Linked DNA regions of Homo sapiens. The protein of the gene in region 3 interacts with the protein of the main gene of each other region in a pairwise test. Each region holds a gene or a part of one and is shown on either strand. Other genes may lie near its edges.

Region 1 (9,312 bases), on a different chromosome or scaffold from region 3:
TCACAAAGCAATCCCTTCACTATATAGATGCTAAGGACCAGAAACAATAAAAGAAAAAATATGTACTCCAGTGGCTTCTATTATCGGACAGTTCCACAGTGCACATTTATGCTGTCACATCAAAATAGAGAAGAGAATAAGCCCCAAAGAGAACAGGGTATGATAACTGATGGCACCTTCCATAACTAGACCTATGTAAATATAGCTCCTCTTACCATAGGCACCTTAAACCAGCCTCCTAGAGGGGCTAAAACAGGTCTTGTGAGAGAGGATGACAATTTTTTAAAGATAAAGGGAATATAAAGCCTCTAATTTGGTTAACAAAAACAAAACTAAAAACAATGTCCCCAGCCTAAATAAGCAGCAATACATTACTAAAAATTGTGGTGGGTCTTTCCATACTATATCAAAACAAGATAAAAATTATCTACAATATCCCAGTATTCATTTTCAAGATAAAAAAGTGAATTCCACATAGAGTTAAATTCATTTTACTGTCTTCTGACAAATCAAGAAGACAGCACTTATGAATGCAATTAGAAGCATGCACAAATCCAAACATGAGGCTTGAAATTCCTTAAATGTGAACAGCTCTTCACAGTTCATAATGAATATTCATGAACAGTATCTTGTTTTAGCCTCCCAGGGGCTCCATGTGATATTTACCAACATCTTCATTTTACAAATGATAAAGGTGAAGCACAGAGATGCTAAACATATTGCCTAAATCACTTCTCTGGATCCTGCTGTCTCCTTCCAAACTTAGAGGAAAAAAAAAAAAGGATTCCACTTACACCCAGGTTTACTACATAACCCAGGTTTTTCTGACTAATGACATATAATCAGGTATTATTTTGTCATATGTGAATGCTAAATGCCATTCCCTCTCCAAGCGCTATAGCAAGGGCACTTCACCTTTACATTATCATGACACTTTGTGAAATCTAAAAAACTAAGGAATCCTCACCCTCTAAAAAAAAAGGCACATATGTGAATGTTCATAGCAGCATTATTCATAATAGCCAAAGAGTGGTAAACCACCCAAATGTTCACCAACTGATGGATAAACAAATTGTGGTATATTCATATAATGGAGTATCATTTAATCATAAAAAGGAAAGATCCCACACGGATGAACCTTGAAAACATGCTAAATGAAATGAGTCACAAAATGACCACATATTGTATGATAATGAAATGTCCAGAATAGACATTTTTTATATGTAATGTGCAGAATGGGCAAACCATTAGAAATAGAAAGTAGATTAATGATTGTCTAGGGCTTTGGGTGGGTTGGGTGAAAATGGGGAGTGACTGTTTAATGGGCATGAGGTTTCTTGCTGGGGTGATGACAAATGTTCTAAAACTGTGGTGATGAATGCACAGCTGTGAACATACTTAAAACCACTGAATTATACACTTTAAATTCTTGAACTGTATGGTCTGTGAATTATATCTCAATAAAGATGTTATTTAAAAACAACTATTAAAAATCTTCATATGAGTAAAATTTCCCAGTTAATTTATGAGGGTTTGTTAAAGCCCTGAACCCATCTACTGGTACGAGGGAGTCGAAGACCCAAGCGTAGTAACTTCTGCTCTATAGAAACAAGAATCATCATCTATTTTTCTTTGTTGTATATGTAAGATTTATTTTGGCTGCCCCTACCCTACCACAACTACAGCAAACCTATGCCTCCTATTTTTTAGGATCACTATTTTGTCTATTAGATAACATAACCACAGTAGTTTTCAATATTGATTCATTAAAAAGAGTAAAATAGTATAGTTTCATAAATATAATTTTAAGAGCTACAAAAAAACTCTAGTAATTGAGCATCTATTATTTGCAAGGCATGGCCGGCATTCAAAAATGTAAAAGATTTCTGCCTTCAAGATGTCATAGGCAGGATAAGATCTATACAAAAATAACAATATACGAAAAAGAAGGTGAATCTTGCATTAAAAAGACCAGGGAAGATAAGCCAGGAATAATGATTAAAGGGAAGCTTCTTGGCAGAGGTGGACAATTATTTAATGCTGTGTTTCACCCTGAAGAATAAGTATCCTGAACGTACATAAAGGAGACACAGGGAATTCCAGATGAGAGCAGAAACAGATATGTTTCAGAATTGTTCCTAGGAACTATGAAGAAGGGCCTTCATCCCAAGCTAAGGGGGCCAGGCATGGTGGCTCACACCTGTAATCCCAACATTTTAGGAGGCCGAGGCACGAGGATTGCTTGAGGCCAGGAGTTCAAGACCATCGTGGACAATATAGCAAGACCTCCATCTCTACAAAAAAATAAAAAATTAGCCGGGGGGCAGTGCCATGTCCCTGTAGTCCCAGCTACTCAGGAGGCTAAGGCAGGAGGATTACTTGAGCCCAGAAGTATGAGGGTACAGTAAGCTGTGATCTCACCACTGCACTCCAGCCTGGGTGACAGAGAAAGATCCTGTCTCAAAAATATCAATCAAGCTAAGGATCCTGGACTTTATTTGGTAGGCTCTGAGAAGCCAAAGAAGGTTGCTGAGTAGGGCAATTACTGAATCAAAGATGTATGTTATGAAGATTGATTGTACAGTAATGTATGGGTGCATGTGGAAGAGAGGAAAAACTGCAAGCAGAGAAACAGTATTATTACAATAGTGTAAGACAAGGTTTCTAGAGTCTGGTTTAGGGAGTGGCATCTGTCATTCAGTAGCCATTTTTAAAAGATCAAGGCATGTCCCCCCAACCCCTGCCACTAAAAAAGGGGTGTTTTGATATGCTGCTCATTTAAAGTGCTGCCAATAAAGAAAATAGCTGTAGTTCATCATGGTACATATTTCCCTGGAGAAAACCCATTTACAACGTAGGTTTAGAAATTTCAAAATTACATTTTAACATGAAGTTCTGGCTACATTGGTTTGTGGGATTAGGAAGGGCCAAAGGCTCCTTTAGGCTCCCTTTGATCCATTAACTATGTTCTGTGAGTTTACAGTGAAAAATGATAAGAGTTGGACGATAAGCTTTCATGTGATCAAGTAAACCTGAACTCCAAGACTAAAAGACCTTGTTTGCAGTAGCAAATACTAAAGGGTCAGGGCCTGAATAGAATTTCCTTGAAATTGCTTTATTTCTATTTATGAACCTGAGGTGATTGGTGGTAGTGCATAACCTTGGATAGTAACCATTTCTGGGTTATAGGTTTACCATGTGGACAAGCACTGCCCACATAGTATAGGGGAGTTTACCTGCCTGGAATGGCCAAGGAGTTGTCTTTCCTGGGAGAGACAAAGAGCCCAGAGGCTACCTAAAGTCTTCCTCCCCACCCAAAGTGATGTTAGACACCGGAACTTGGAAAGAGAAGGTTGGCGTTCGAGTTACACGACACACACACACACACACACACACACACACACACACACACACCAAATAAAAGGTCTTACCCCAATCTCCAAAGTTTGCCAAGGCCAAGAACACTGTCTCTTAGCCCTTTTACTTCCAATCCCCGCCCACAGCCTGCAAGACCCTCCACTTCCCTTTCCCCTTCCGCTCTTGGCTTACTTGTCACGGATGATGGTCTGTAGCTCCCGTATCTGATCATTCATAGGCAGCAGCTTAAGCTGCGCCCCGATCTGCCGGGAGAGTTCGCAGTCCTCTAGGAAGGAGTTGCCAGCTGGTGCGTCATAGCTGCTACTGTCACCACTACCACTGTTGCCCTCTGAGTTGAGGCTGGAGCCGCCGCAGGCCCCAGAGTCCAGCTCGGCCGGCAGGCTAGAATGGGCGTACCCCGTGAGGAGAATCACCTTGGCCCTGGAGGCTCTGTTTCCCCCTGCGTGGTCCAGGATCAGATCGCCAGGTCGCAGCTGCTCGGGACTTGGGGTTGAGGCAGAGTTTACTTGCTGGTTGTGACAGGGCATGGAGTCCGGACACTGTAACTCCGTGGCCATACACCGGGCCCCGGGCTATCCCCGCTGCTACTGAACACTAAAGATAAAGAGGAACGGGTAGAAAGGACAGATGCTCACGTGCTCTCTCGGTTGCTCCCGCCTCCTCAGAACATCTAACCCTGGCTGTCCTTTCACCCCTAGGCCGCTGTTGGTTTCCTTTAGCACACTTTGGCTCACTCCCGCCCACACCAGACGTACTGCCTGCCTAGACACCCTATTGGCTGCACTCCCCGCCACTCTGCGGCGCCACTGCTTGTTAACCCTTTGAGTCACCCTTGCTACGTGGGTTCCCACAGGTAGCTAAGCCCCCGCAGCGAGGCCAAGGATGCCAGCTTGAAGGATCTTCCGGGGGCCCCTGGGGCTTCTGCATTCAGAACTTTGGGTGATTAGTAGAGCCAGGAAAAACTGGGGGTGGCAGGTGATGATACACAGTTACACACGTAAGGCCCATGTTTTCAGACTTTGTGACCTAGCAGAGAAATTATATCTCAGTAACCGCATCTTCAGTTAGCTTGTCTGCATAACAGAAGGAAGAAGTAAAAAAATGCCTAGCAGGCTGCTGAAGAGGCTGTCCTCTACTAGACTGTTCTAGAAACTGCAGCTTCCCAAGTATGCTTGACCGCCAAAGCTTTTCTTATCTTTATTGGTTGGGCCCCACAGTGTACACGTTGTCATGGGGACTCAGGCGGCATTTCAGATCCACTATCATTTTGAATCTTTAAAGTACTTGGAAAGACGCTTATTTTTAAGTGTATGGACTCACTATAACGGCCTGAGGTAAGAGTGTCTAGGGCAGTACTTTTCAAACATCAGTATGTACCACAATAATTGTAGAGCTTGTTAAAATGCAGGTTCTTACGGCTCATTTTTGAGATTGTGATTCTGTAGATCCGAGATGGGATACAAGAATCTTTTTTTTTTTTTAACTTTTAAGTTCAGGGATATATGTGCAGGTTTGTTACATAGGTTAACTTCTGTCATGGGGGCTTGTTGTAAAGATTATTTCATCGCCCAGGTATTAAGCCTAGTACCCACTAGTTGTCTTTCCTGATCCTCTCCCTTCTCACACCATGCACTCTGCAGTAGGCTCCAGTGTGTGTTGTTCCCCACTATGTGTCCATGTGTTCTCATCATTTAGCTCCCACTTATAAGTGAGAACATGCAGCATTTGGTTTTCTGTTCTTGTGTTAGTTTGCTAAGGATAATAGGCTCCAGCTCCATCCATGTCCCTGCAAAGGACATGATCTCATTATTTTTTATGGTTGCATAGTATTCCATGGTGTATATGTACCACATTTTCTTTATCCATTCTATCATTAATGGGTAGTTAGGTTGATTCCATGTCTTTGTTATTGTAAATAGTGCTGGAGTTAACATATGTGTGCATGTGTCTTTAATAAAACAATAATTTATGTTCCTTTGGGTATATACCCAGTAATGGGATTGCTGAGTTGAATGGTATTTCTGTCCTTCCTTTTTTTAACATGCCTATACAGATTTTTTTATAATTTTTTTTTTATTTCCATAGGTTATTGGGGAACAGGTGCTGTTTGGTTAGATGAGTAAGTTCTTTAGTGGTGATTTGAGAGATTTTGGTGCATCCATCACTCGAGCAGTATACACTGTACCCTATTTGTAGTCTTTTATCTCTCAAGCCCTTCCCACCCTTTTCCTCCAAGACCCCAAAGTTCATTGTATCATTCATATGCCTTTGTATCCATCATAGCTAAGCTCCCACTTATGAGTGAGAACATACAATGTTTGGTTTTCCATTCCTGAGTTACTTCACTTAGAATATTAGTCTCCAATCTCATCCAGGTCGCTGCAAAAGCCATTAATTCATTCCTTTTTATGGCTGAGTAGTATTCCATATATATATACATATATATATATACACATATATATATGTGTATATATATATATACATATATATGTATATATACACATATATATACACATATATATGTGTATATATATATATATCTCACAGCTTCTTTATCCACTCATTGATTGATGGACATTTGGGTTGGTTCCACGTTTTTGCAATTGCGAATTATGCTGCTATAAACATGCGTGTGCAACTATCTTTTCTGTATAATGACTTCTTTTCCTCTGGGTAGATACCCAGTAATGGGATTGCTGGATGAAATGGTAGTTCTACTTTTAGTTCTTTAAGGAATCTCCACACTGTTTCCATTAGTTGACATTCCTACCAGCAGTGTAGCAGTGTTCCCTGTTTGCCACATCCATGCCAACATCTACTATTTTTTAATTTCTTTGATTATGGCCATTCTTGCAAGAGTAAGGTGGTATTAAATTGTGGTTTTAATTTGCATCTCTCTGATAATTAGTGATGTTGAGCATTTTTTAATACATTTCTTGGCCATTTGTATATCTTCTTTTGAGAATTGTCTATTCATGTCCTTAGCCCACTTTTTGATGGGATTGTTTGTTTTTGTCTTTCTGATTTGAGTTCCTCGTACATCCTGGATATTAGTCCTTTGTCAGATGTATAGATTGTGAAGATTTTCTCCCACTGTATGGGTTGTCTGTTTACTCTGCTGACTGTTCCTTTTGCTGTGCAAAAGCTCTTTAGTTTAATTAAGTCCCAGCTATTTATCTTTGTTTTTATTGCATTTGCTTTTGTGTTCCTGGTCATGAAATCTTTGGCTAAGCCAATGTCTATAAGGGTTTTTCCAAAGTTATCTTCTAGAATTTTTATAGTTTCAGGTCTTAGATTTCAGTCCTTAATCCATCTTGAGTTGATTTTTGTATGAGGTGAGAGATGAGGATCCAGTTTCATTCTCCTACATGTGGTTAGCCAATTATTCCAGCACCATTAGTTGAAAAGGGTGTCCTCTCCCCACTTTATATTTTTGTTTGCTTTGTCGAAGATCAGTTGGCTGTATTTGGATTTATTTCTGATTTTGTGTTTTGTTCCATTGGTCTGTGGGTATATTTTAATACCAGTACCATGCTGTATTCGTAACTATTGCCTTATAGCATAGTTTGAAACCAGGTAATATGATGCCTCCAGATTTATTCTTTTTGGCTATATGGGCTATTTTGCTTCAATATGAATTTTAGAATTGTTTTTTCTAATTCTGTGAAGAATGATATTAGTATTTTGATGAGAATTGCATTGAATGTGTAGATTGCTTTTGGCATTATGATCCTGTTCACAATATTGATTCTACTCGTCCATGACATGGGTTATGTTTCCATTTGTTTGTGTCGTCTATGATTACTTTCAGAAGTGTTTTGAATTTTCCTTGTAGAGGTCTTTCACCTTCTTGTTTAGATATATTCCTAAGGATTTTTTTTTCACATAAAGTGTTTATTTTTTCCTTATTATACTTTAAGTTCTGGGGTATTTGTGCAAAACGTCCAGATTTGTTACATAGGTATACATGTGCCATGGAGGTTTTCTGCACCCATCAACCCATCGCCTACATTACGTAGTTTTCCTAATGCTATCCCTCCCCTAGCATCCCAACCCTGAAAGACCACAGCATGTGATGTTCCCCTCCGTGTATCTATGTGTTCTCATTGTTCAACTCACACTTATGAGTGAGAATATGAGGTGTTTGGTTTTCTGTTCTTGTGTTAGTTTGCTGAGAATGATGGTTCCCAGCTTCATCCATGTCCCTGCAAAAGACATGAACTCATCCTGTTTTTATAGCTGCATGGTAATCCATGGTATCTATGTGCCACATTTTCTTTATCCAGTCTAAAATTGATGGGCACTTGGGTTGGTTCCAAGTCTTTGCTATTGTGAATAGTGATACAATAAACACATGTGTGCCTGTGTCTTTATAGTAGAATGATTTATAATCCTTTGGGTATATACCCAGTAATGGAATTGCTGGGTCAAATGGTATTTCTGGTTCTAGATCCTTAAGGAATCCCCACACTATCTTCCACAATGGTTGAACTAATTTACACTCCGACCAACAGTGTAAAAGCGTTGCTATTTCTCCACATCCTCTCCAGCATCCGTTGTTTCCTGACTTTTTAATGATCACCATTCTAATTGGCGTGCGATGGTATGTTATTGTGGTTTCAATTTGAATTTCTCTAATGACCAGTGATGATGAGCTTTTTTTCATATGTTCGTTGGCTGCATAAATGTTTTCTTTGGAGAAGTGTCTGTTCATATCCTTCACCCACTTTTTGATGGGGCTGTTTGTTTTTTTCTTGTAAATTTATTTACGTTTTTATAGATTCTGGATATTAGCCCTTTGTCAGATGGGTAGATTGCAAAAATTTTCTCCCATTCTGTAGGTTGCCTTTTCACCCTTATGATAGTTTCTTTTGCTGTGCAGAAGCTCTGTTGTATAATTAGATCTCATTTGTCCATTTTGGCTTTTGCTGCCATTGCTTTTGCTGTTTTAGTCATGAAGTCTTTGACCATGCCTATGTCCTGAATGGTATTGCCTAGGTTTTCTTTTAGGGTTTTTATGATTTTAGGTCTTGTGTTTAAGTCTTTAATCCATCTTGAGTTACTTTTTGTATAAAGTGTTAGAAAGGGGTCCAGTTTCAGTTTTCTGCATATGGCTAGCCTGTTTTCCCAACACCATTTATTAAATAGGAAATCATTTTCCCATTGCTTGTTTTTGTCAGATTTGTCAAAAATCAGATGGTTGTAGATGTATGGTGTTATTTCTGAGGCCTCTGTTCTGTTCCATTGGACTGTATATCTGTTTTGGTACCAGTACCATGCTGTTTTGGCTACTGTAGCCTGGTAGTAGAGTTTGAAGTCAGGTAGCATGATGTCTCCAGTATTGTTCTTTTTGCTTAGGATTTTCTTGGCAATGTGGGCTCTTTTTTGGTTCCATATGAAATGTAAAGTAGATTTTCCAGTTCTGTGAAGAAAGTCAGTGGTAGCTTGATGGGAATAGCATTGAATCTATAAATTCATTTGGGCAGTATGGCCATTTTCACGATATTGGTTCTTCCTATCCATAAGCATGGAATGTTTTTCCATTTGTTCGTGTTCTCTCTTATTTCCTTGAGCAGTGGTTTCTAGTTCGCCTTGAAGAGGTCCTTCACACCCCTTGTAAGTTTTATTCCTAGGTATTTTATTCTCTTTGTAGCAATTGTGAATAGGAGTTCACTCATTATTTGGTTCTCTGTCTGTTATTGGTGTATAGGAATGCTAGTGATTGTTGCACAGTGATTTTGTATCCTGAGACTTTGCTGAAGTTGCTTATCAGCTTAAGGAGATTTTGGGCTGAGATAATGGGGTTTTCTAAATGTACAAACATGTCATCTGCAGACGGAGACAATTTGACTTCCTCTGTTCCTATTTGAATACCCTTTATTTCTTTCTCTTGCCTGATTGCCCTGGCCAGAACTTCCAATACTATGTTGAATA
Region 2 (7,183 bases), on a different chromosome or scaffold from region 3:
GGGGCCATGAGGCAGGCAGACTGGATGTGACAACAGGAACTTAGGGTGGGGATGGGAGTTGCCTTCATTTCCTGGCTGCAAATGGTAGAAAGCGCAGCCACACCACCGTAGGGAGGGAATCCCATGCCAGGGCTGACTAGGTTATGAGCAGGGGGTGGGCAGAGGTACCACGACTCCAGGCTTCTAGTCCCTGGATGCTCTTCCCACCTAGTCATGCCTTGGGCCCCGCAACACCCGAGGCTGCACAGAGCCCAGGGCCCTGGTTCTTGGTGCCGTCCAGCACCCAAACATGAATTGGGGGATGCCAAGCTCTAAGCCGTGCACAGCAGTGGGCCAACAGGACCTCACGCACAGTATGCAGGAAAAGTGCTTTGGAAGTTTATCGTCTTTAATGACATTTCAACTGAAAACAGAAACCAGCTGGGCGCAGTGGCTCACACCTATAATCCCAGCACTTTGGGAGGCCAGGGCAGGTGGTTCACCTGAGGTCAGGAGTTCGAGACTAGCCTGGCCAACATGGTGAAACCCCGTCTCTACTAATACAAAAAAATTAACTGGGCATGGTGGCGCACGCCTGTAATCTCAGCTACTCAGGAGGCTGAGGCAGGAGAATCGCTTGAACCTGGGAGGTGGAGGTTGCAATGAGCCGAGATGGCGCTATTGCACTCCAGCCTGCGCGACAAGAGCAAAACTCTGTCTCAAAAACAAAACAAAACAAAACAAAACAAAAAAACAGCAAAAGAGCAAATAGAGCAAAACCCGAAAAAAGTGCAAAACTAATTCCCAGTAAAATTGAGCTCCGAACATAAAATAAATATATATAATTGAGACAGGGTCTCACTCTGTCACCCAGGCTGGAGTGCAGTGGCGTGATCTCAGCTCACTGCAGCCTTAACATCCCGAGCTCAGGTGATTCTCCCTCCTCAGCCTGTTGAGTAGCTGGGACTACAGGCATGCGCCACCATGCTCAGCTAATTAAAAAAATTTTGGGGTGGGGGGCGGTCGGGCACGGTGGCTCAAGCCTATAATCCCAGCACTTTGGGAGGCTGAGGCGGGCAGATCACTTGAGCTCAGGAGTTCAAGACCAGCCTGGCTAACATTGTGAAACCCCATCTCTACCAAAAATACAAAAAATTAGCTGGGCATAGCGGCAGGCACCTGTAATCCCAGCTACTTGGGAGGCTAAGGCGGAAGAATCGCTTGAACCTGGGAGGCAGAGGTTGTGGTGAGCCGAGATCACACCACTGCACTCCAGCATGGGTGACAGAGCGAGAATCTGTCCCCCAAAAAAAAAAAAAATCTGAAAGCAGAATTTTTTTGTAGAGACGAGGTCTCACTATGTTGCCCAGACGGGTCTCAAACTCCTAGGCTCAAGCAATCCTCCTACCTCGACCTCTCAATGTGCTGGGATTACAGGCATGAGCCACTGCTCCCAGCCAGGACATTTTAAAATCAGAACAGAATGATACGGTCCCACAGAAGACAGTGTTGGGAGTCTGTGCCTGAGCGGCGCAGGTGAGTGGCAAAATCACAGCACACATGACACTGCAGCTGTGACCGGTGTCAACTACCACCCAAAACAAATCTGGCAAACAGACATCGGAATTAAAATAAGTCAAAAATTTTAATGGGAAAATCTGTGCCCAGTCCTAGAACAGACAATTCAATTCATAGCGTTACCATAAAATTACTGTCAAAAAAACGAACTGAAGTGGGAGAATGAGTGGCGTTTCAGGCCATCTCGAGTCGCAGCAGACACATGAGCCGGCGCCACGGGCCTGGCTGAGGAGCAGGGGCTCATGGGCACCACCACCCATCTGGGTTTTCTGAGGTCGTCGGCGGCACGTTCAGTAACAAAGCAACGGCTGGCGATACATGGCAGCTCACGCAGCGCTCTTTCCTGCTTATCCCCCAAACTTAATTAGATGTACTGGAGTTGATGCTGCCAGGGTCTCCAGCAGGTGAGGCAGTTGCAGGTTGGGGGGTGGCCCCCTGCCAGCTACCCTGGGCCTGAAACGACAGAGACTGAGCATCAGAGTGGGTGGCCGTGAGACTGGTGACTACCCAGCCCACGTGCTGCAGGCGGAGCCTCCAGGGGTCCCTGGGAAGGCTTGGAAAAGATCCACAGATGACCTCCAGCTCAGTGGAGGAGGGAAGGGATGGAGGGGTCGGTCCTGGGTCACAGCTGGCCTTGCCACCTGACATGGGACATGGACGAGCTTCCCCGGCAGGAAAACTGGCCTCTAGTGGCTTCCCTGGGGCTTAGGCAAAGGACTGACTGGCATCGGGTACAACAAGGGCTCCTGCCCGGCGAGGGGCAGGGAGGCAAGGTCAGGCCTGGAGCCCATGATGACGCCCGGAGCGTCATGGTGAGACTCGGTGGGAAAAAGGGGCTCTGAAACCTGGCCCAACACTGGCCTGGCTGGGCAGCAAGGAGGGTGGGAGGCAACCACTTGTCATAAGGGGTGGGGGCTCTGTCTGCAGTGCAGAGACGGCATCACGTCCAACGGCGCTAAGACGTTTGTCCACAGGACCCACCCCCACTATGGTGGGCACGGTACAGGTTAAGGAAGTGGCTGGGACTGCTCTGCCCGTGAGTGTGGGAGCAGCTCAGACGGGTGCACCACCTGGGGGCACTCTGCTCTGAACTGGGGTGGACACACAGCTGCTGGCGCGTAGTCAGGTCCCAGGGGTGCAAAGGGCAAGGTGAGGCCCCTCACGTGTGTCCCTGGCTGGGGGCTGCATGGTGATGGGGGGCAGCTGCCACAGCAGGACAGTGTGGGACGTGTGCTTCCCAGGACCAGGTGGGACCCCACAGACAGCACAGGAGGCATCCGTTCTCTGAACCCCTGGGAGAGAGTGGTGAGTTGGGAGGGGCACCCGGCTCTGCAGTGCCCTGGCACACACCACACACACAGCCTCGTGCCTGTGCTGGGCACATGACACCTGGGCCTCCTCAGTGTCTTCAAGACGGTCCCCACTCGCTGCCTTCCCAGCCAAGCTGCGGCACTGAGGTCTGAGCCCGAGGGAAGGCCCCATCTCTCCTCCGGCCTCCTCTGCTGGCTGCCTGCCCCTCCCTCTCGAGGGAAGGACACCATGTCCTCCCACAGTCCTCTAGGAGGTGCCCTTCCCCTCCACAGCCAAAGCCCTCATCTTGGGGTTCATCCCCACTGACTGTTCCCAGCGGCTGCCGTGGTGACAAGTGGAGGTGGGGGAGGGCACAGTCATTACAGAGTGGGGCCCTGCAGAGCTGTGCCCCAGAGGTGGCCGCGCAGCATGGCCTGTGTGGCTGCTGGGACCTCTGGGGAAGCTGCCCCAAGGCCGAGGGGTGGCTGACAAGACGACCCTTTCTGAGAACCTACCACCCACCTGGGCGCTGTGGGACAGTGCCTGAGACTCACCTGGGACTGCAGGCAGCCTCCCCCAGGAGGAGGCTGGAGAGAGGCCAGAGTCCGCAGGGTGAGGAAGGCGTCCCCAGCGCTGGGCAGCGGGAAGGGTCCAGAGGAGCCTGGAAGAGATGGGAGCCGGGGTGGGCAGAGTCGTGGCGCCTCCTCAGGTGGAACCCACCCAGCCCCTCAGCCGGCAGGAGGCCTCGAATGTGGCTCCTGCCCCTCCTCAGCATCCGGCCTCTGCTCCTCAGCCCCCACCCAGGCAGGCCAGCGGGCCCTCCCCACCACACTACTCATGTCCCCTCATGGCTTGTCTTTTTTTTTTCTTTTTAAGACAGTCTCGCTCTGTCACCCAGGCTTGAGTGCAGTGGCACGATCTTGGCTCACTGCAAGCTCTGCCTCCCAGGTTCACACCATTCTCCTGCCTCAGCCTCCCAAGTAGCTGGGACTACAGGCGCCCACCACCACGCCCAGATAATTTGTTTTTTCTTTCTTTTTTTTTATTATTATTATACTTTAAGTTTTAGGGTACATGTGCACAATGTGCAGGTTTGTTACGTATGTATACATGTGCCATGCTGGTGTGCTGCACCCACTAACTCGTCATCTAGCATTAGGTATATCTCCCAATGCTATCCCTCCCCCCTCCCCCCACCCCACAACAGTCCCCAGAGTGTGATATTCCCCTTCCTGTGTCCATGTGTTCTCATTGTTCAATTCCCACCTATGAGTGAGAATATGCGGTGTTTGGTTTTTTGTTCTTGCGATAGTTTACTGAGAATGATGATTTCCAGTTTCATCCATGTCCCTACAAAGGACATGAACTCATCATTTTTTATGGCTGCATAGTATTCCATGGTGTATATGTGCCACATTTTCTTAATCCAGTCTATCATTGTTGGACATTTGGGTTGGTTCCAAGTCTTTGCTATTGTGAATTGTATTTTTAGTGGAGATGGGGTTTCACTGTGTTAGCCAGGATGGTCTCTATCTCCTGACCTCGTGATCCGCCCGCCTCGGCCTGGGATTACAGGTGTGAGGCACTGCACCCAGCCCATGCCGGGCTAATTTTTTTTGTATTTTCAGTAGAGACAGGGTTTCACCATGTTGGCCAGGCTGGTCTCAAACTCCTGACCTCAGGTGATCCACTCATCTTGGCCTCCCAAAATGCTGGGATTACAGGTGTGAGCCACCGCACCCAGACCTTTCATGTCTTTTCTTATTAGTATCGCCATTCTGTCCCCAAAGCACAGGTATCTGTTGGTTGGGATCATGGCCAAGAGGAACAGAACTCTCACAGTTGAAACAGAAGAAAGAGTTACACAGAGTTGACCACTGGGGGAAGGGAGATGTGGTCCCACTGTGGCCTCCCCAGATGCAGCTCAGTGGCCGTCCACATGGGTACAGATGACTGTCCCTGGGCCAGCCTCACTCACCGGAGCTAGGTGTTGACAGGCAGCTGGCGTGGTTCCCTGGGACCCCAACTTCCGTGGTATCCACAGCCGTTTTACCCGTGTAAATGGTAGCCTCTTCTTGAAACTTCCCCATGTTCTTTTTATACCGGATTCTTTTGTTGCCAAACCAGTTAGAGACCTGCGGACACACAGGAGTCACTGGAGGAGCTGACCCAGCGACTTCTGAGACACGACGCAGTCTGTGGGTTCCCTGGGGTGCCCGTTGCTCCCACTGCCTTAGAAGACAACACTGCACCCTGGGGCTATGAAGAGTCTGGGACTGAGAAGGTGGCGCCCTCTGAACCACGGACCCAGGGAGATGTCCACATGGGTTGAGGACACCCTGGAGCTGGCGTGTCTTAGAACTCTGCTGCCTAAAACTGGATGTTGCTGGAACCTGAACCTGGGAAGGGGCTGGAAGGAAAACAAGACTGTCTGAGGTGGGCCGGGAGGGACAGCGCCTCTGGCTGCCATGCAGCAGGCGGCAGGTTACGTTCCGTGTTCTCTTCAGGAAAAGTGAGAGCCAGGGAGACCTGGGGACCCAGTAACTGCGATCGAATCCCAAACTTATCAAATGAAAACAAGGTGAACTCTGAAGGGGTAGTTGGAATGTACCAGGTGCTAGGATAAGCACTTCTCATATATTCATATATTTTTCTTAATTTTAATTAAAAAAAGGTTTTTTGGCCGGGCGTGGTGGCTCACGCCTGTAATCTCAGCACTTTGGGAGGCTGAGGTGGGGGGATCATCTGAGGTCAGGAGTTCGAGACCAGCCTGGACAACATGGAGAAACCCCATCTCTACTAATAATACAAATATTAGCTGGACACAGTGGCACATGCCTGTAATCCCAGCTACTCGGGAGGCTGAGGCAGGAGAATCACTTGAACCTGGGAGGCAGAGGTTGCAGTGAGCCAAGATCGCACTGCAATTTAGCCTGGGCAACAGAGTGAGACCCTGTCTCAGAAAAAAAAATATATTTTTTCTTTTTTTTTAGAGATAGGGTCTCGCTCTGTTGCCCAGGCTGGTCTCAAACCCCTGGGCTTGAGAGTTCCTCCCGCCCTGGCCTCCCAAAATGCTGGGATTCCAGGCCCAGCCTCATATATCATTCTGCCTCATCCTCATGAGGACCTGGGAGGCAGCTGTTATCGTCCCTGCTGTAAGAAAGCAGAGGCAGGAGAAAAAGGAGCTAGTCCATGGCCAAGGTGGAATCAGCCCAGCTCTGACTGCAAACTGGCACTGGAGTCCCCCAGGGAGGGGCTTGTCACCTTTGGTGGCACTGCTGATGCTTGGGCTCCATCTGCTCTGTGGGGGCTGTCCTGTACACTGCAGGGTGCTGAGCGGTATCCTTGGCACCCACTGGGTGCCAGGAGCACTTCCCTTCTCTAGTCGTGACAACAAAAATGTCCCCTGGGCAGATTCACATGGGTGAGCACCCCAGGGCCAGCGCCTTCCTACAGGCATGGAGACGTCCATCCAGGGCCACATTTCAGTATCCCAAAGCAAGTAAAATAAACGTATAGTATAATAACACACAGAAATGAAACAGCTGAGGGATGGAAGAGGATTGTGGATGACCTTTGCTACTTCAAACATTTTTTTCTCACTCTGTCACCCAGGCTGGAGTGCAGCGGTGCGATCTCAGCTCACTGCAACCTCTGCCTCCCAGATTCAAGTGATTCTCTTGCCTCAGCCTCACCAGTAGCTGGGACTACAGGCACGTGCTACCAAGCCTGGCTAATTTTTGTACTTTTTTTTTTTTTTTTTTTCGGAGACGGAGTCTCACTCTGTCACCCAGGCTGGAGTGTGGAGTGCAGTGGTGCGACCTCAACTCACTGCAACCTCCGCCTCCCTGGTTCAAATGATTCTCCTGCCTCAGCCTCCCCAGTAGCGGGATTGCAGGCATGTGCCACCAAGCCTGGCTAATTTTTGTATTTCCAGTAGCCACGGGGTTTCACCATGTTGGCCAGGCTGGTCTCGAACTCCTGACCTCAGGTGATTCGTCCGCCTTGGCCTCCAAAGTGCTGGGATTTCAGGCATGAGCCACCATGCCTGGCCAACATTTGGTGTACTTACATTATCCTTGCAATGTTAAGTATAAAAAGAAGGATCCCTGTCTGTGTGCTCTCTGTTCCAAACATAGTGTCTGCCTACCCCGGGGGTGTGAGCAGCCTTCTCTTGATCCACATGGGAGGCCCCAGAGGCTCCATCCTGGTTGAAGCAGCCCTGGTTGTCCTCCAGACAATTGTTCCTTGGGGGCCAAATGTCTCACGCTTCTCCAGGGGCCTTGAAGACCCAGAGGCGCAGCCCCTTGCTCCAGCTCTGGCCTTGTTTCTGACA
Region 3 (8,708 bases):
GCGCCTGCTGCGGGTCCTGCTGCAGCACCACCTTCTGCGTATGGGTTACCTTCTCACGGGCCTCAGCTTCTTCCTGCTCCAGCGCTGCCAGCCGCTGCTGCAACCGCTGTACCTCGCGCTCGGCCTCCCTGCGGGCCTGCCGCTCGCGCTCTAGCTCCTCCAGCTGCCGCTCAAGCTCGGTGCGCCGGCGCTGCAGCCGCCGCAGCTCTGCCCGCAGCTTGTCAATCTGCCGCAGCTCCACATCGATGCTCTCGGCAAAGGCGCTCGCCTCGGCCCGCAGGCCTGGCTCCTCCTCATACCTGACCACCTCCTGCTGCACCACCCTTTCCTTCACCCGCGAGAGCTCCTCCTCTTTCCGGGCGATCTGCTCTTCCTGGGAAGCTCTTTCCCTCTCCAGATCCACTTGTTTCTTCTGCTCCTCTGAGAGCTTTGCCCTCAGAGACGCCACCTCCTCCTTGGTTTGAGGGTCTTCTTGGAATTGGAGGATCTCCTGGACCACCTCTTTGGTCTGGACCTGGGGTTTGGTGTCTTTCAGGGCCTGGATTTCCTTTTTCAGCTGGTAGATCTCTAAATCACACCTTTCGATCAGTCTGGTCTTGTCCACGATCTCCTCCCTGAGCCGCTGAAGCTCCTTCTCCATCTCAGGGTCAGTCTTGTACTTAATGACTTCCTTAGTCACCTCTTTGACTTCCACCTGGGGGCCTCGCCTCCTGAGGGCCTCCAGCTCACTCTGGTAGCTCCGGAGCTGCTCCTCGGCACCCCGGTACTTTCGCTCCTGCTCCACAAGCTCCAGGCGGAGGTTCGCCACTTCACTTTCCGCCTTGGGGTCTGGCCGCACGATCTCCCGCACCTTCTCCTGCACCACCACTTTGGCGTTCTCCTCCTCCAAGGCCCATATCTTTCGGAGCAGCTCCGTCTTCTCCCTCTGGCTAGCGCGAGCCTTGGCAGCCTCGTCCTCATATTGGCGGGTGAGATCGCTGACCTCCCTCTCGGTGGCCGCGTCCTTCTCCACCTTGAGCACCTCCTTGACGGTGATCTTGCCCTCGGCCATGGCCCGCTCCTTCTCTAGCCTCTTGAGCTTGTCCTGGAGGAAGCTCAGCTCCTCCTCCTGCTTCTCCCTGAGCTGGTCCTGGCGCTGGTGGTCCTCCTGCAGCTGCTGGTACTCTGCCTCCAGCTGGGGGTCATTCTGCAGTTTCACCACCTCTTTCTCTGTGACCTTCTCCTGCGCCCGGCTCTTCTCTTCAGCCAGGGCGGCCACACGCTGCTGCAGGAGGAGCACCTCTGCCTCCCGGGCGCCCTTCTGCCGCCTCAGTGCCTCCAGCTCCTCCCGCAGCTGCAAGACCTCATCCGCCTGGGCCCTGTCAGGCTCGATGCGCAGGACCTCCTTGACCACGTACTCCTGCCCCCCGTCTCTGGTCTCCTGCTCCAGGGCACGCAGCTGCAGCTGCAGTGCCTCCAGCTCCTCCTGCAGCAGCTGGTTCTTGTGCTGCTCCTCTGCCAGCGTCCGCTGCAGCTGCTGGAAGCTCTCCTCCAGCACGGGATCCGGCACCTTCTTGAGCACCTCCTTCCTCACCACCGATTCCTGAGGCCCCTGATTCCTCAAGGTCCAGATTTCTTCCTGGGTGCTCTTGACCTCGTTCTCCAGCTGCCGCCTCCGCTCAGTCTCCTCATCCAGTTCCTTCCTGATCTTCCACGCCTCCTCCACTCCAGAGTCCGGCCTATTCCTTTGCAGGGTCTCATGGGTCACTTCTACTTCCGGCTGCTGTGATGGAGAAGACAAGACAAGGTTAAAGCCAGGCTCTGGCAGCACATGTAGGGCCTGTCCCCACCTGGTCAGAGTGGCTGTCCTGTGGTCCCCAAGGGACTCCCTCAGTGCCAGTTCATGTTAGTTGTAGAGTTCTAGGGTTACTTTCAAAAAGGATCAAACAACTAGTTTGGGGTTTTTTTTAATCAGGTAAAACATTTTTGAGCTGTGGAAGAGTTTAAAATGAAACCACGGTCTCCCACCTCTGGTCCCCGTCCTAGGGCGTGTCTGTCAGCCTTGCAGATGCTATCTGTGCTCACACAAGAATATCTGTCTGTAGTATGTACCATGTGTTTATCTCTCCTGCACAAATGGTATTCCTGCTGCTCACTGCACTTACAGAGCTCATTCCAGCTCAGCACAGAGAGTGCTGCTTCAGGATTTACCAGCAGCATTGTTTCCGCTCTCTGGACAGACCGCAGTTTAGCCCATTGCTGATGAAGAGTGAACTGCTTCCAGTGTCTTGCTATTAAAAAACAATGCTGTCATCAACATCATGGACTTCAGAAAATAACATTCACTTTCTTTTGTTTCTTTCTTTTTTTCTGAGACAGAGTCTCGCTCTGTTGCCCAGGCTGGAGTGCAGTGGCACAGTCTCAGCTCCCTGCAACCTCCACCTCCTGGGTTCAAGCAATTCTCCTGCCTCAGTCTCCTGAGTAGCTGGGATTACAAGCATGCGCCACGACGCCCAGCTAATTTTTGTATTTTTAGTAGAGACGGAGTTTTACCATGTTGGCCAGGCTGGTCTCGAACTCCTGACCTCAGGTGATCCGCCTGCCTCGGCCTCCCAAAGTGCTGGGATTACAAGCGTGAGCCACCATGCCCAGCTGAAAATAGCATTCACTTTCAGCAGATGTTTACTGAGTTGAATAAGTTCTCATGTCAGTAGAAGCATTGGCTCGGGCCAGTCTTTGCATTGGCCCTGCCCAGAAACGTTAGCAAGGGGACACTTCCATCAATTCACAAACCATTTCTCTAAGACAGAGTCTGTATTTGTCACCTGTTAGAACAGCCTGAAGTAGAATTTCTTACTAAGATCAGTTACCTGTCTGAGGAGATTCAGAGCAAACTCCAGATTCTGCAGCCTCTGTCTGTTGATGGCATAAACTTCAGTGAACTTGGCGGCAAGTGCTGCTTCCTGCAGAGAAGAGGATTAGGAGAGCGGTCAACAAACAGGTGTCAACAGGGTAAGCAACAGAGAGCTAGACAGCGTGGACGTGGTTCTTGAGAAGTGTGGAATTTGGGGGTAGAGGCATAGCTCTTGCCCACTCCTGCCTGGAGTTAGACTGTAGCCTCACCGGTGGAGAGAAAAATGGATCTCGAGGCAGAAGATCCAGGCCAGGGTCTTGGCCACACTGACTTTGAGCAAGTCTTTCTGCCTCTTAGAGCACCAGTGTTCTCTCTTGTGTGTACAGGAGACTAATATCAGCCCTCCACTGTACTTACTGAGGTGAGCAAAACAGGAACTTCCCAGATCCATGGTTCTGACCCTGACACTTCTGTTCAGCTGCATTTTCAAAAATTTTTATTTCTTAAAGACAGAATCTCTTTCACTCAGACTGAAGTGCCATGGTGTGATTGTAGCTCACTGCAGCCTTGAACTCCTGGGCCCAAGTGATCCTCCCTCCTCAACCTCCCAAGTAGCTGGGACTACAGGTTTGCACCACCACGCCTGGCTAATATTTTTGTAGATATGGGGTCCTGCTTTGTTGCCCAGGCTGGTCTCCAACCCCTGGGCTCAAGCAGTTCTCCCACCTCGGCCTCCCAAAGTGCTAGGATTACAGGTGTGAGCCACTGCGCCCGGCCTTGCTGTCTTTCTAGGCATATTGATGTCACTGCCCTAGAACAAGTTCCTCATCTCTTACCAAACCTGTTTGCATGCAGGAGGGCTCTCAGTGGCTTCCCTGTTGTGTGTGCATCTCTGAGGCCAGCGTGTGACACCATGCTCCCTGGGGAGCAGGGCAGCTTGGCCTCCACCTCAGTCCCGAGGCCGCCTGGCCCATGGAACTCACCTCTTCCTTCACTTTGGTGGCAGGAGATTGGAGCCTGGCTCTCTTGCTCACGTGGCTTCTCCTTCCATTCTCCAAGTCGAGAAGAGACCTTAGTTTTTCTGCTTCTAACTCATAGTCCTGCATGAGGGAGAGACATGGCAGAGGGGAGATTAAAACAGCTGAGAAGAGACAGACATGTTCCTGTACCCCTTCAGGCTGACCCAGACCTGCCCTGTGCCATGTGCTGGTTTTATAATCTGCGTGGGTCTTCCTCACAGCTGCACCCTGCAGTGATTTCCAGGAGGTTTTGAGAATTACTGATATCTCAGCAGTACATAGCTCCATCACTCAGTAACATATGAGACAAGAAGTGCCCCCTGAATTCCCCTCCCAGCCTTTCTACATGCCTAGAGATTTTCACATTCTGCTGCTGCTTTTAACATCGTACCATAACCCTGTCTCACCTTGCCACCACCTCTTCTCATGTTTACCAGCTTGCTGACTTTATAATCCATCAGGTGGATGTGTGCTGATTCACGCAGCTTTCCCCTTCCACTGGACACCAGTCCTTTCCAGCGTACTAGTTTTGCTATTGTAAATAGTGCTGTTGCAACAATGTTGTTTATCCTGCATTTTTTTTTTTGTACTTTTTCCTTAAGGATAAATTCCCCCAAAGTGTTTACTGCTTCAGAGTATAAAACCCTTTTACAGCATTCCATGTCTAGTACCATGCTGTTTTCCCAAAAGCCTGTGCCAGTTTGCACAGCAGCCGGCAGTGCCTCGGATGGCCAGCTCCACCCCCATGTGCCAGGGCCGGTGCTTGCTGCTTCTCTGACCAGGGCACGGTGGAATAAGACCCCTGCTGTTTGTGCTTTGGGCGGAAGTTTCCCGGCTCACCTTTACAGCTTGCTGGTACTGCTGGGAATTGGCACAGATCTTCTGTACTTCCTGCTCCCTACTTGCTATCTCATCTAGCAGGTTCTGTAAGACAGAGTTTAAAAATCAAAACTAACCAGAAAAAAAATTTAAAAAAGCAACCATGGATGCAGTAGCTGGAAATCTCAGAATCTGAATTTATTCTTCTCTAGCACAAAGTATGATGAATGGCTCCCTTGTATACATTTTTATTCATTGCAAAAGGCAGTTTTTTTGTTGTTGTTGTTTTTTTTTTTTTTTTTTTTTTTTTTTTTTTTTGAGACAGTCTCACTGCATCGCCCAGGCTGGAGTACAGTGGCGCGATCTCAGCTCACTGCAGCCTTAGCCTCCTGGGTTCAAGCAATTCTCCTGCCTCAGCCTCCCAAGTAGCTGGGACTACAGGCTCCTGCCACCATACCCAGCTAATTTTTTTTTGTATTTTTAGTAGAGATTTGGTTTCATTATGTTGGCCAGGCTGGTCTTGAACTCCTGAACTTGTGATCCTCCTGCCTCAGCCTCCCAAAATGCCGGGATTACAGGTGTGAGCCACCGCGCCCAGCCACAAAAGGCAGTTCTAAGGCTCTGTGAAGAAGGGCCAAGATCATTATCTCTGCTAGGAAACAAATGTTTACTGATGATTTGGACCACCAGACACTGTTCTGCTGTCTGACTTAGATTATCTCATTTAATCTTCAAACGATGCCAGGAGGTAAGCATCGTGACCTCCAGCTTATGAGTGAGGAAAGCTTCTGAGGTGGGGATGTGGCTGATGGGGTGGACCCGGGATTTGCATCTCAGCCATTGGCTTCCCGTGTTCCTCCCTCACCCCAAGGCACTGCGTTGGGCATGGGGGAGGCAGGAGTCCCAACTTTGAAAATGGGATTTCCCCCACAAAGGCGGCTCCTCATTCTGTAGCTGTTCACTCACATAGCCAACCCACGCCAAGTGTCCATTCTGCACCAGGCCCTGTGCGGGGCACTGAGCTGGGAGAGGTGAGCGACACACTCGGTTCTTGTTCTCAGAGGGTTGGGTGTTGGGAGCTTGAGCTGAGGCCCAGGGAGGACACAGCTGTGGCAGGCCTCTGCCCTGCTCCACCTCCCAAAGGCTTGGCTCCCCAGAAAGGGGCTTGTTGACCTCTGACCCTCCCTTGCCAGTGTGTGCCTGGGGCTGCGGAAACGGCCATCTCACCTTCTGGTTCTTCAGCTTGGTCTCCATCTGGCTGAGGCTGTCTGTCTCCTGGGGCTCGTAACTGGGGATGCTGACTAGGAACTGCAGCACGTGGTCATGGCCGCGGTGGAAGTGCTCGTAGGCTGCCTTGGCGCTCTGTAGGCTCTGCGCCCTGTCAAGGCAAAGCGTTCAGGCCTCAGCCACAGCAAACAGATGCCTCACCGAGCCCTCATTTTTTTTTTTAAAGTGGGAAACAACCAAATGTAACAACCAGAAATACCCCAAGTATCTCCCACACAGGGTGGGTGGTCATTAGGGAACGTCAGGTTGGACTGTGGAGAACCAGGTGGGTCCATATACATTGACTTGCAGAGATGCCCATTGTGGATTACAGGACCCAGGTAAGCATGACTCAAAAGAGAGACCACAGGGCCGTCAGAGAATCTGACGAACTCACCAAAAAGAAAAACAGCAAAATCTGTGGGACACGGCTAAAGCATTGCTTAGAGGGAATTAGATCGCATTCTCAGAAAACAAAAATGGCCACCACCCACCGCACCCTCACCTGCGTTCCACCTGCTGGCGCAGGTTGTTGAAACGCTGGCCCAGCTTGTGCACCTCGGCCTCCTGGCGCTCCAGGTCCGGACAGTGCTCCTGGAAGCGGCTGGCCAGTGTGCTCGAGCACTGCTTGGCCGCCTGCAAGTTCTGCTCCACCTCACCCAGGAGGGACTTCTGGGCCTGTAACTCACAGGCCATGGCCTGGCGGGGCAGAGGAGGAGACGGCGGTGCTACGGCCAGAGCTCCCAGAGCCAGGCGATGACACCCACTGAAGCCCCTGGGCCACTGACTGTAGGAGGGTGGGCAAGGCCACAGGTAGGAAGGACCGGAGCCTTGCTCTGTACATCCCAAACCTGGGTCACTTCTGCCATCTTCTGTTTTTTAACAATGAACAAAGCCCTGAAAAGCTAACTTCTAAAAACCCTGCAGCAGGCAGCTCGTGCCCTGCGCGAGAACAGCCTGCCACTGTCTGGTCATGAGGCTGTGGCAAAAGCAAGTCGTGAGATGGGAGTGTGAATAAGGGGCCTCAGGTCACAGACTTGAATGTTTCCTGTGCTCAGGCAGTGTGGGAAGGGGGCCCGTGGCAACTGCGAGGTAAGCAGGCCGAGAAGGCAGCTGCTCCTCTGCCCACTGACTTGCCCTCTGAGCTGCAGCCCAGGATGCCAGCTCTGCTCAGCAAGAGATACTGGGAACATGGATTGTTATGTGCTTTATGCTTTTTTTTTTTTTTTTTTTTTTTTAAGAGATAGGGTCTTGCAACGTTGTCCAGGCGGCTGGACTTAAACTCCAAGGCTCAAGCAATCCTGCCCCAGCCTCCTGAATGGCTGGTGTTACAGGCATGTGCCACTACACTGGCTATTGCAGATATTTGATCTTAAAATGCTGGCACCCGAAATCCCGTAAGTCACACAGATCCCGTGAATAGCTTGGATTTGTGCTGTGGGCCTCCATTTGCAGTTCCCAATTTGGGCATTCCAAACCTGGGGAGACTGGATGCTGGTGTCCTCATCTATCCAGACGGGCGGGTGGATGTGCCAGATGCTCTCACCTGCTCAGAGAAGGACTCCCAGGACTTGGGCCCTAGACTCACCGCCAGCTCCTGCCCCTTGCTGTCCAGGACACGGCTGCTCTCAGGCACTGTGTCATCCTGATTCAGATGGTTCTCGTGTGTGGCCAGCAACTCCCAGCTCTGCTGCAGGCTCTTCTCCAGGCGGTTGGCCACATCAACCCTGAGAGCACCAATCAGGCGTCGGGGGATGCCCACCTGGCCCCCTGACCCCACCCCAACCTCCATGCTGCCTGTCTGCCACCCACTTCTCCTGGGCCAAGTCCAGCAGCTGCAGGAGGTGCTCGTATTTCCGGTTGGTGTCCTCCACCCGGGTCCTCAGCAGGGGTGTGGTGCCACTGCCTGGGAGGGCCTGGATGAAGGCTTCGCCCTCAGCCGTGCTCCGCGTCTTCTCAGGTTCAATCCGCAGTAGCTCGTTGGTGATGTTCTGTGGGAACCAGGGCCCCTCAGTTTTGGACACAGCCAGGCAGCCCCTTCCCCTGAGGATGTGCCCAGGGTGAGCACAGATTCCCACATCAGGCACAGTGGAAGCAGCTGGAGAGGCCTGGCACATTCTGGGGCTCTGACCCGGCATCTGGACCCCAGCCTGAGGGCTGTATTTTTCACGAGCATCCCAGGGAACCGCTGAGGTGGAATGGACTAGTGACACCAGAAGCACCCAGGCAGCTGCCGGGCCTGTGCTGTCCTCAGCACTGCACGCGGACGCTTCTGTTTAATCTTTGCGGCAACCCCGGGAGGTGAGTACTACGACTCCACCCAGTCACGGGTGGGGGTGTGACGACTCCCAGCAGCTTAGGAAGGGACTTGTGGGGTCAGGCTACACCCGAGACCGGCATCCTCTCGCCCTGACTTGGCTCTCACTCTGAGGCCCCATCAGGGGCTATGGCACTTCTCCAATCCCAGATCCTCTTCTGTAAAATTGGAGTGCTACTCACTGCCTCAGAGGGCTGCCTTGAGGATGTGGGAGACTTTGTATAGGAAAGGAGGTGGGGGGAGGTGGCCCCTCCACGTCCCCCCTGGCATCAGCTCACCCTGTCCTCGCCACTGCCCTGTGAGCAGGGCCAACCCATCCTACTGAAGACACTGAGGCCTGGAGTTTATAAATACAAACGCTAACGTGTTTGCAGTCAAGCCAGCCGGTGACCCAGTCCTGCGGAATTCCACAGCCCATGTGCCATGCCAGGCGTCAGATCGACAAGCCGTGCAG

The links. The genes of interacting proteins can lie anywhere in the genome.
Region 1: the proteins of PPL (region 3) and UPRT interact in binary tests that used the Homo sapiens proteins (3 or more experiments, as listed by UniProt).
Region 2: the proteins of PPL (region 3) and PBX4 interact in binary tests that used the Homo sapiens proteins (3 or more experiments, as listed by UniProt).

What each region holds. Positions count from the first base shown.
Region 1 is NC_000023.11:75,268,878-75,278,189, reverse strand, and holds the start of UPRT (uracil phosphoribosyltransferase homolog), read right to left. Parts: upstream 4,106-9,312; 5' UTR 3,936-4,105; coding exon 3,550-3,935; intron 3,528-3,549; exon of another isoform or gene 3,432-3,527; intron 1-3,431.
Region 2 is NC_000019.10:19,560,108-19,567,290, forward strand, and holds the end of PBX4 (pre-B-cell leukemia transcription factor 4), read right to left. Parts: intron 4,983-7,183; coding exon 4,826-4,982; intron 3,509-4,825; coding exon 3,402-3,508; intron 2,011-3,401; coding exon 1,918-2,010; 3' UTR 1,606-1,917; downstream 1-1,605.
Region 3 is NC_000016.10:4,884,286-4,892,993, forward strand, and holds part of PPL (periplakin), read right to left. Parts: intron 7,929-8,708; coding exon 7,750-7,928; intron 7,665-7,749; coding exon 7,526-7,664; intron 6,637-7,525; coding exon 6,443-6,636; intron 6,050-6,442; coding exon 5,899-6,049; intron 4,777-5,898; coding exon 4,693-4,776; intron 3,934-4,692; coding exon 3,817-3,933; intron 2,943-3,816; coding exon 2,850-2,942; intron 1,763-2,849; coding exon 1-1,762. UniProt on the Homo sapiens protein: Component of the cornified envelope of keratinocytes. May link the cornified envelope to desmosomes and intermediate filaments. May act as a localization signal in PKB/AKT-mediated signaling.